Linked DNA regions of Homo sapiens. The protein of the gene in region 1 purifies or fractionates together with the protein of each later gene. This does not show direct contact. Each region holds a gene or a part of one and is shown on either strand. Other genes may lie near its edges. The genes, in order: MTHFSD, MACROH2A2 and ZNF346.

Region 1 (3,728 bases):
GGGTGGTGTGATCTTATTAAACAATCCCGTTCTCAGTCGTGGTGTTGGAACCAACAATGTTTTTTTGCTCTTTTAAAGAAAAGACAATCAATAAATTACAAAATCAAATTATTCCATAGGACTTTCTTATATGTATTTTTACCATTTCAGGAGAAGAGGCAAATTACTATTATCCGCATGGTTTTTTTTGGTGTGTGCCAAGGAAATTACTTATTTGAAAACCTAATTAAATAATGTGTGGGGTCGATTTTTCTTAGAATCACCACTCGGCACCTCCTTACCCTGAAGAGCCAGAGGGTTTACTAAACTTGCTAATTTGATTTCACTTGCCATTCAAAATTGTTACAGGTAAAAACTGACAACAGAAATCCAAACTAAGGTCAGTTCTGACAAAATCCCAACCTCAACTTTCCTGTGCCCCCTCTGCTCTCAGCACCAAGTGCGACACAGTTACAATAATGCTGTCATTAGAAACTGGCATGGCATAGCTACCTTAGTTACTCAAACATTTCTATCTAGTTTGACTGTTCAGCAAATCACAGTCAAAGAGATCAGTAATCATGATAATCAATACACTGATACGTGCCAATAGCCCTTGACTTCTACTTAGTTCTCAAATGCCTATTGTGAGAACCTCTAGAACAGGGCTTCTCAAAGTGAGGGCCCTGGGCCAGCGCATCAGCGCTCCTGGCACCTGTTAGAAATGAATCAGCCCCTCTGGGGGTGGGGAGCTTCGATGAGCCTTCCAGTGACTCTGATGCACACGAAAGTTTGAAAACCACTGGCTGAGATGTCTCTGTAGATTATGCAAGGGTAAGCCACAAGGCAATCATAAGATCTGTGAAATCTTTCATGTAAATAATAGTATATTTTAGTTTTTGAGCAGGAGATGACAACCCAAGACCAATAAAAGACCCATGACATCTGTTTGGCCTATTTCAACAAAGGCTTGTCAACCACAAGAGTGAAGTACTTCAACACAGGCAGCTGTGACTGCGGCCTGCTGCTTTTCTGGGAGTGGTGGAGTGTGGCTCCCTCATGGGCAGTGTTGGAGTCCTGTGCCCCACATATGGGGATCACTCTCTCTTTTCTAGAAGCTGCTCATCCTCTGGCTCAGTGGATCTCAGCCTTTAGTGTGCATTAGAATCACCAGCAAGCTTTAAGAATTACCGAGGTCTAGACCTCACTCCAGAGACTGGAACCTGGCATGGCCAACAGTCTTCAAACCTCCTTGAGTGATACCACCATGTGGCCAGAGCTGGCAAGTGGCACCTAAGCCAGTGGGGCTTAAGCCTGTGTACTTGGAGCACCCTCGGAGTACTGATTGAACAGAATCTGATGCCACTTTAGAGACTCACAGGTCTGGGGTTGGGCCTGGGAAGCTGTGCATGCCCCCGGCACTGCGGACTGTCCGGTCAGACACTGGCCACTGTGCCTGTAGCTGTGGCTTGAGGTTGTGCATGCCCCCAGCACTGCGGACTGTCCGGTCAGACACTGGCCACTGTGCCTGTAGCTGTGGCTTGAGGTTGTGCGTGCCCCCAGCACTGCGGACTGTCCAGTCAGACACTGGCTGCTGTGCCTGTAGGTGTGGCCTGAGGCTGTGCATGTCACCATTGCCTGCCCACATGCAGCTGGGGCTCAGGAACTTGCATCTTTACCTGCATCCCAGCTGATCCTTAAGTCCCTTAAAGTTTCCAAAAACCACTGAGGACCCTGAAAGCACCAGAACTCAGGGACCACATGTGTGTAGTCTTGCACCACTACATCCTATGCCCAGCACGCAGCCTGGGAGATAGCTCAGTTACTTATGCAGTTGTTTCTTCAGCCTGAATAAATGATGGCATGAAGCAACAGGGATTTGCTCAGGGCTGCACCCCTCTTCCAGGCCATCTTGGCTAAGGCTGACCACACGGTCAAGGTTTCTGATTTTTGCTCTGAGGGGCTGACAGCTGAGAACACCCTGAACTTCACACTTGCAAGGACTGGCTCTGGAGTCAGGTGGCTGAGTCAGAATCCTGGCTGTACTGAGACTGATGTGCGGTAACCTGAGGTGGAGCCTCTCTGTCTCTGGTTTCAAGTGTCACAGAGGAGCAGAGATGGCTCCCATAGTAGTAGAGAACCAAACCACATAATACAGGGAAAACATTTAGACAGAACTGCGCCTCGAATGCAGTGACTGCCGACTGCCGTCCTTCCTTGCTACTGCTGCTATTACTACTTCTAGCTTATTAAAATGATTCATTAACTGGGAAAATAAGGCTGACAGGAAGCTATGCTTCTGGAAGAGCCTACATGGAAGTCTCTCTTGGGGCTGAACCACCATCAGCAGACAAAATGATCTCCCACACGAGCCTGGACCCCTCCTCTCAGCTCCGGCAAGAGGTGTGGAAAGTGCCCCTCTCACCAGGGCTTCTCAGGAGTCTGACTTGGCAACTTGGGTGGGAGAATGGAGTCAGCACACAACGCATGGCAGCGTTAAGGCAGAATGACAACGATTCTGCCCTGAGATGGCCAGTACTATACTCATGTTATCAGCTGCGATTTGCTCCAGCAAAACCATATCAACCATTACGTTAAATTAATGGGGCCATTTGAATGTTACTGATTTTATAGTTTTGTTTGTATTTAACTTATATGCTTATTTTGGTTTTATAGTTACATAAAAGCTATCTGCATTAAAATTTATACCAAGTTTTATGTTTATCATATTGAATTAGTTTATAATAAACTAATTTAAATCAACCCTGGGGGAGTTTTCTGGTTTTCCTTGAAAAGGGGCCTGTATGTTTTCAGTTGAGGAACAAGTGCTCTAACCGATACCTTTTGAGGGTACATCAGACTTCTTACTCGTGATTTATCATGTTTCAAAGCATCATAATACCACAACTGTGGCAAAAAGAACTAAATCTTCCTTGTAATCTTCCTCCTCTGATGAAGCACATCAAAACTGAGAATGCTTCAACGCCATAGTTTTTGTGTTTGTTTGGTTAGGAAGTTAAAAAATAAAAATTACAAAAGCATGCCTGAATTTAAAAAGTTCAGCAGTGTTGAGAAGAAACCTTTCCAGTTCTTAACCGTGGTCTTTATAGTATCAGAACATGACAAGTGACCGTCTGTCATCCAGAAGCAAATGATTCTGTGTTCAGCAAGCTTGTTAGCATGCTCATTTCAAATGGCAAAGTGGTGTCATCTATTTCAGCTCCAGCTCCTCAATTCTGGAACACCACAGGTTCTGCCTGGGTTCCCTCTCCTGTGCCAACTGGGCCTGGAAGCCATTGTTTTGAACATCCTTTATCTCTGAATTTAGAAGCATTCGGGACTCCTGATTGACTGAATTGCTAAACAGCTGAAGGGCTTCTGAACTATTCTTGGAAAAATCACCACCAAGGGCACTTTCTGTATTGGAGGGAATCGGAAGCACCGACTTTCTAAATGCAAGACAGACGTGTGCACTGACCAGCTACCTGGAAAAGGTGTCCCCCTTGGCGGCCAGGTCTCGGCTCGGCTCAGGGAAGTGGAATTACCTGCAGCACCAGCAGCCGAACGCCTTCCAGTGGTTTATCAGGGTCCACTTTAACTTCCTGTGTTCTGGCAAAAACGTCTAGGTCTTTGATGTTTTGGCAAGCCAGATAAGACCCCTAGTTAGGCAAATAGACAGAGTTGCACTTACTTCAAGGACGAAGAAGCGAGCACTTTTCTGGGGGGCATCAGGATTTACTTTAATGGTC
Region 2 (3,728 bases), on another chromosome or scaffold:
GCCAGCAAGGTGGGCCATTAGACAGCTCCAGCATCCTGATTTATTTATTTATTTATTTAGTTTTTGTTAAATTTTTTATTGGTGGTATTTGGTTACATGAGTAAGTTCTTCAGTGGTGATTTGTGAGATTTTGGTGTACTGAACCTGATTTGTAGTCTTTTATCCCTCACCCTCTTCCCACCTTTCCCCTGAGTACCCAAAGTCTATTATGTCATTCTGATGCCTTTGTACCCTTACAGTTTAGCTTCCACTTATGGGTGAGAACATACAACAGCATCCTGACTTAAATGACCATTTTTTTCTACAGTCAAGCTTCTACAACGAGGCTTTGAAAAAGAGACAGCAGTCAGTAATTTGAGGATTGGGAGCTATAATTATAGGCCAGGGTGTCACAGGTGGGGTTCGGTCACACCGATGAATCACCTTGACAAAGGATCTAGACTCACGAGACGGCTTATTTTTAAAGCACTCTTTCGAGATCATTCTCTTCAGAAGTATGCAAATCAAAATGCTTTCATCATACATTATTTTAAATCTAGAAATAAGAGATCTTAGAGCTTTTAATGATGGAATTGAAATTTAAAAAAAACTTTAAACATTGTTTTCATGAACATGAAATTCACAGTGTCATCCCTAATGGACTCATGTACTGTTTTAAAATTGCTGAAATTTATTCAATTTATTCATTTTTATCCTCTATGATATTTCCCTAATCTGTGGTATTGTGCTTCAGAATATTTTATATTGCAAATATTATGAAAAGTGATGGAGACACTGCAATGAAGCATCTTTGTCAGTTCAGAATAATCCTTTGGGAGAATACATTGAGATGAAATAAAACAAAACTAGGTAGGAAATGAGGGGATTCAATATAAATATATTAACTATACATTGAAATATATTTTAAAGGGTATGAAAAAAATCTTAGCTTCCCACCTAATAGAGTTTGACTGTATTTTGGTGTGTTACCCTAAGTACTGTATTAAAATAATAATAGTTTGTTAGCATTATTTTGTAGCTGTAAAAATCATTTTCAGTAATAAGAGCTAAATCACTGGCTCTATTACACTTCCATTTATGAACTCCAAGGGCAAATCATTATAGTATAATACTTTCCAAACCATTTTCTTTCAAGGCCACCTTTAAGTGAATGAGAATAGTCAATAATTTTATCGTCATATATGTTACAGCACATTAACAATTTATAACGTAAAGGGCTATATCAAATGCAATTTCATCAAAATGGCACGCAGATCAAATTAACCAAATTAACCAACCATGAATGTTAGAACCAAGCATTAATCCAATTTATTTAAATTATACTATTGGATAACAAATCATTCCCTTTTAAAAAAGTATTTCAAGTCACGTCGTGTAGTGGGAAGTTCAACTGCCGGCACATTCTTTGTCATTCAGAGGCAGAGCATGTGTGGTCACTCTAGAGGAGCTGGGGACAAGGGGTAGGGGCATTTAAGGGGTAGATTTAGGATATCTGCTGCTACTGCAGGATACTAAGACATTTTAACATGTTTTGTTGTCTCTGTTGAACCTGAGCTGTGGTTATTTTAAAAAAGAGAAATGCAGAAGTTGTTGATCTATAATGTAGCTTGTTTCTTTATTATTGGCCTTATGCTATTTTCTAATATAAATACGTTTGGCCACCTGTGGTACTTGGATGAGAAATGAATGAAAATAATTTTAGTTTTCTTTGAATCTGAGTTAGCAATGCATTCCTAAAGAAAGCCAACCAGAAAATGAACCAGTTTGCCTTCCTGAATCTATTCATCCACAGAAAACAAAACAAAAACACCCTCACTGGGTCCAGCCTGGTCTCTTCTTGTCTTTTTGTTCTTTGAGGCTTGACAAATAGGAGCAGTGGGATTTCCATAAACAATATTTAAAATTATACTGGGATCTCAGAAGGGAGGAGAGGAAAGAAAGAAAAACCCCTTAGCACATGCCCTTATTGAATGAATTGCTTTTGGGGAGAAAGGATAAACTTTATTTAACATGCTGATGGCCTTCATAAAAAGACAAAGTAGTCTGGTTTCTTTAAACCAATATTTCTTTTTTCTTTTTTTTTTTTTTAGACAGAGTCTCTGTCACCCAGGCTGGAGTGCAGTGGCCCAATCAGCTCACTGCGGCCTTGACATCCTAAGTTCAAATAGTCCTCCCAACTTAGCCTCCCAAAGTGCTGAGATTACAGGCATGAGCCACTGAGACCAGCTTGACCAAGATTTTCTTTTAATTTAAATAAGTTCTTTATCAAGTATAACAGTGGTTAAACTATCTTGTTTTCTGCAAATCTAACAGATCCAAATTAGTAATGCAGTTTATTGTTATAAGCAGCACATTCTTTACTTCTCTGAGCAGGGCACTGGCTTTGTCTGAGCCAAGATGAGATTCCCAAATGGGAGTAGAGGTGTGCAGGCGCACCGTTAGGGGCTAGGGTGAGTGTTCCAGTACCAGACAGCAGGTGGACTGTATGCCTTGGTGTGCCTGATCCACCAGGGGCTTCCAGAGACATCCATGTTTGCTGAGCAACTGAGTTCATCAGTGGGGCCAGTTGTCTGCTCTCAAAGCTAGAACAACAGACTGCTCTGGAACCCCTCTTCCTCCATCCCTTTCTCTGCCTGCACCTCCCTACCCATTTTTTCTTGCTGTCTGTCCTTTTTTCTTTTTCTTTCTTTTTTTTTTAAGAGAGTCTGGCTCTGTCGCCCAGGCTGGAGTGCAGTGGTGCAATCTTGGCTCACTGCAACTTCTGCCTCCCTGGTTCAGGAGATTCTCCTGCCTCAGCCTCCCAAATAGCTGGAATTATAGGCGCCCACCACTGTGCCCCCCTAATTTTTGTGTTTTTAGTAGAGATGGGTTTTCAGCATGTGGGCCAGACTGGTCTCCAACTCCTGACCTCAAGTGATCCGCCCACCTCAGCCTCCCAAACTGCTGGGATTATAGTCGTGAACCACCGCACCTGGCCCTGCTGTCAGTCCTCAGGCAGTGGCTGCACTGTGGGGACAAGTGGCTTGGGTCTTTTGCTGCAGTTCTATGTTCTGTGCTCTTGACAGGCAGTGTTGCTCCCTGGTTATGCACGTGTGGGTCCCCTGTAGCTCCTGGGCCCCGGCACATTGTATCAGCTGCTTCAGCTAAGGGCTACCACTGGCCACACCACACCACACCATCCTCTCTGTGGGTGTAACCAGCCACTGGCCACACCACACCATCCCCTCTGTGGGTGAAACCTGCCAAAGTTCAAGGGGGCATCAAGGTGGTAGAATGGAAGGTGCGGTGGACCACGGGGAGGGAGCCTCCAGTTTGGCTGTGACTAGCTGTGGCCTGTAGGCAAATCAGTAGACCTCGTAGGGTTCCCCTTTTGCTTGAACAAAAATTTGTAGGAGGCCAGGCGCGGTGGCTCACGCCTGTAATCCCAACACTTTGGGAGGCCGAGGCGGGAGGATCACTTGAGGTCAGGAGTTCGAGACCAGCCTGGCCAACATGGTGAAACTCTGTCTCTACTAAAAACACAAAAATTAGCCAGGTGTGGTGGCGCACGTCTGTAATCCCAGCTACTTAGGAGGTTGAGGCAGGAAAATCATGAACCTAGGAGGCAGAGGTTGCAGTGAGCCAAGACCACGCCACTGCACTCCAGCCTGGGTGACAGAGTGAGACTCTGTCTCAAAAAAAAAAAAAAGAAATTATACTCTAATATATAAAACAGATGCAAGGGGAGC
Region 3 (3,500 bases), on another chromosome or scaffold:
GTATAGTGAAAAGGCATTGGCTACAGTCCTGAACCTACCACCTAAAAACATACTTCGGGCCAGCCACTTAAGCTTTCTGAACTTTAGTTTCCTTGTATGTAAAATGAGGGTGCTGTTTCTCACCTTGCAGAATTGCCATGAGGATGGAATGATGGAAGCTAAGCATCCAGCATTCTGCCAGCCCACAGTGGACCTCAGTGAAGGAAAGGTGTCCTGTCTATTACTCCAAGGCCCTGGAAGGGCAGTGCTATCATTGCAGTAGGCCAATACAGCTGCCACACACTGACCCTCTTCCTTTGTTCCTTCTCAAATACAGGTCACCAAAAACAGTGGCATCATCCCTGGGCCAGATTCCAATGCAAAGGCAACCCATTCAGAAAGACTCAACCACCTTGGAAGACTAGAGGTGATTCTGCCCAGCATCCCATATTGGGCCAGCCATGAGCCAGCTTCCCGTGACTGCTCAGCCCTTGGCTCCCTCTTGCTCGTTGTTCTCACCAGGAAAGTACACGGGCCTGAGGCAGGATTGGGCCACAGACAGCCTCTCATTGGTCCGGGCTAATTCACTCCTGCTGCTCCCCTTTGGCAGGGGTCCTGTAGGTCATGACAGGGGAGGCAAGGGTATTGAGAGACTCGGGGTCTCGCGGGGTGGTAGTTTGGAGGGTGGCTTTCCCCATTTCCCAACCCCTCTGGGCCTTAGGTGCTGAGGCCCCTGCCACCTGTCTTTCCTCTAAAGGTCAGTTTTGGGCCAGTTCTTGCAACTAAAGAGCAGAGATCTCTCTGGGCCCTAGACATTTCCAGCAAAACCTGGAACTTTCATGCCAAACCTGGGGCAGGGCAGGAAACAGAGGAAATGGCTGCAACATGGGAGCTTGGAGCTAATACGACACTCTGCCTTCCCCCAGAAGGTGCAGGCTTTCCTGAGTCTTAGACCAGATATGGCCAGTTGCGCAGGTTTCTGCCAACTGTGAAGTATCCTCCTGGAGCAGTGACACAATCTTGGCGGAGCATTGCTACCCCCGCTGCCCCCTCCACAGTTCCTGAATGGTGCTAAGGATCTGCAGCAGTTGGCAACGAGCTGGGGCTGGGGGCGGCCTCCATGTCCACTGAGATCATAGGACACTCCAATGGGGATGGGACCTTTCCCCTCCTCCATCAGAGGTGCTCTGACCCTAGGTTACACGGGAAAGTGCCCCACATGCAAGTCTCCCTGAGGGTTCTGCCCCTAAAGGCAGACTGCCTCATGCCCGCTAGCTGTGAGGTTCATTGCTACCCTCGGCCCTACTAGCCCTCTCTTCCCCCTTGTGCAGCGGACCACTTGCCCAGTTTGCTGTGGTGCTAGCCTTCCCCATCATCCACCGGGTGATTTCTGGGTCCCAGGGAAAGAAAGAGAGAGCTGATGCAGGTTTCTACAGTGAGGAACAGGCGTTTCCCAGGCCCCACACCCAGATTTCTCTATCTTTGCTGTGTTTTATGGCCTGGGACTGAGTCCACACGGATAGATTTTTCCTTGTAACCTTGAGACGAGAATTCCAAGGAGTGTCACCATCAGAGGCTTCTCTTCATTGTGTCAAAGAAGCCCCTAGCTGCTCTCGTGGCCTCCTTCCCCCACTCCCTATCCCTTCACCTGTGAAATGCCTTTGCTTTGCATATTGTGTGTGGATGTGTGTGTGTGTGTGTGTGTGTTTGTGTGTATGTGTGTGCTTCTGTGTGTGCCTAATGCTCTGTCTCTTGGTCACTGAAGCATCCAAATAAAGAATTTCCCTCATGGGCCAGACTACAACTTAACAGACCTAGGGTTTTGAGCCATATTGCCATTGGATCTAGTATGTCTGTCTTGACCCCTCACCCCCACCCCATTCAGACCTCAGTAGTCCCCAGTAGTCACTTTAGGAGTTGGGACAGAGTCGAGCACCCTGTGAAAGTCTCCCTTGAGTTCAGGTGCCCTGAACTCAGTACAGCCTCATCTTCTCATCCACCACCTTCTCCTGCTTCTCCTGTCACATAGGGCCTCATGAAGGTCTTTAAAGGGTTTAAGCTGGGGATCTGCTTTATGTTTGAGAGAACTGTTCTGGCTGTTATGTAAAGGAGTGCAGGGAGGGGCAGGAAAGGAGACAAGGAGGCCAGTATGGACACTGTGTCCAGTATGGCTTTCCAGGCTAATCACTTAGGGCAGAGACCCAGCCTTATTCATCTCTACTTCCTGATGTCCATAGTGGTGTGTCATGAATTTTTATTGAATGAACAAATGAGGTGTATGAGGAGAGATGGTTTTCTCCTGCTCAGCTCTTACACAGTGATAGGTTTGTTCCATGGGACTTATCATAGGCCTGGTGATTCTTGAAAGAGCATTTTTCATGACTCAAAAATGAGCTGAGAAGGAGTGTTATGGCCAGGTGCGGCGTCATGCACCTATAGTCCCAGCTGCTCAGGAGGCTAAGGCAGAAAGACCATTCAAGCCCAGGAGTTCCAGCCTGAAGTATGCTGTGATCATGCCTGTGAATAACCACTGCACTCCAGCCAGGGCAACATAACAAGACTCTATCTAAAAAAAAAAAAAAATTATAAAAATAAATTTGAAGGCTGGGCGCCGTGGCTCACGCCTGTAATCCAAGCACTTTGAGAGGCCAAGGCAGGTGGATAACCTGAGGTCAGAAGTTCGAGACCAGCCTGGCCAACATGATGGCAAAACCCCGTCCCTATAAAAAATACGAAAATCAGCTGCGCCTGGTGGCACACATCTGTAGTCCCAGCTACTTGGGAGGCTGAGGCAAGAGAATTGCTTGAACCCGGGAGGCGGAGGGTCGCATTGAGCCAAGATCGTGCCACTGCACTCCAGCCTAGGTGACAGAGTGAGACTCCTGTCTCAAAATAAATAAATAATAAATTTTAAAAGAAGGTAGCCAGGTGTGGTGGTGCATTCCTGTAGTCCTGGCTACCTGGAAGGGTGAGGCAGGAGGATCGCTTTAACCATGAGTTCAAGGCAGCAGTGAGCTATGATTATGCCACTGTACTCCAGCCTGGACAACAGAGCAAGACCCTGTCTCTAAAAATAATAATTTTTAAAATTTAAAAAAAGAAAGGAATGTTATGGCCTCAAGAGCTCTTTGTCCATCCTTTACTGTAGACAGCCAGATTTGAGGAAGGGGCCCAGGCAGCCTCAGCTCCCATTCAGTGCCACTCAGCCCCTGCTCCTGGTCAGCTGTGAAAGGCTCTACACAGCCCCAAGGGAGGTTCTCAGCTTCCCATGATCAGACTGCCTCAGCAATTCCCCAGAGTCCTTCTAAGCCACCTAGTATGTCAGATTCAGCCCCATCTACCAAGCAAGGAAATGAAGGGCAGGGGGTGAGTGGGCTATCATACCGTGAGCCTCCGGCCTGCAAGACCACTTTGTAGTCCCTACCAGCTGTGTGGCCAGCCCTGTTGGTAAAGGGACCTAGAGATGAACACTTTCTTGCCCTTAGGGGTTCACACACAGTCAAAGATCATGATGACAATGA

The links.
Region 2: the proteins of MTHFSD (region 1) and MACROH2A2 purify together in Homo sapiens (co-immunoprecipitation; one large-scale study listed by IntAct). This does not show direct contact.
Region 3: the proteins of MTHFSD (region 1) and ZNF346 purify together in Homo sapiens (co-immunoprecipitation; one large-scale study listed by IntAct). This does not show direct contact.

What each region holds. Positions count from the first base shown.
Region 1 is NC_000016.10:86,548,509-86,552,236, forward strand, and holds part of MTHFSD (methenyltetrahydrofolate synthase domain-containing protein), read right to left. Parts: coding exon of another isoform or gene 3,671-3,728; intron 3,639-3,670; coding exon 3,525-3,638; exon of another isoform or gene 3,465-3,524; intron 70-3,464; coding exon 1-69.
Region 2 is NC_000010.11:70,059,337-70,063,064, reverse strand, and holds part of MACROH2A2 (core histone macro-H2A.2), read right to left. Parts: intron 1-3,728. UniProt on the Homo sapiens protein: Variant histone H2A which replaces conventional H2A in a subset of nucleosomes where it represses transcription. Nucleosomes wrap and compact DNA into chromatin, limiting DNA accessibility to the cellular machineries which require DNA as a template.
Region 3 is NC_000005.10:177,064,196-177,067,695, forward strand, and holds part of ZNF346 (zinc finger protein 346), read left to right. Parts: intron 1-316; coding exon 317-404; coding exon of another isoform or gene 405-562; 3' UTR 563-905; coding exon of another isoform or gene 906-931; 3' UTR 932-3,500.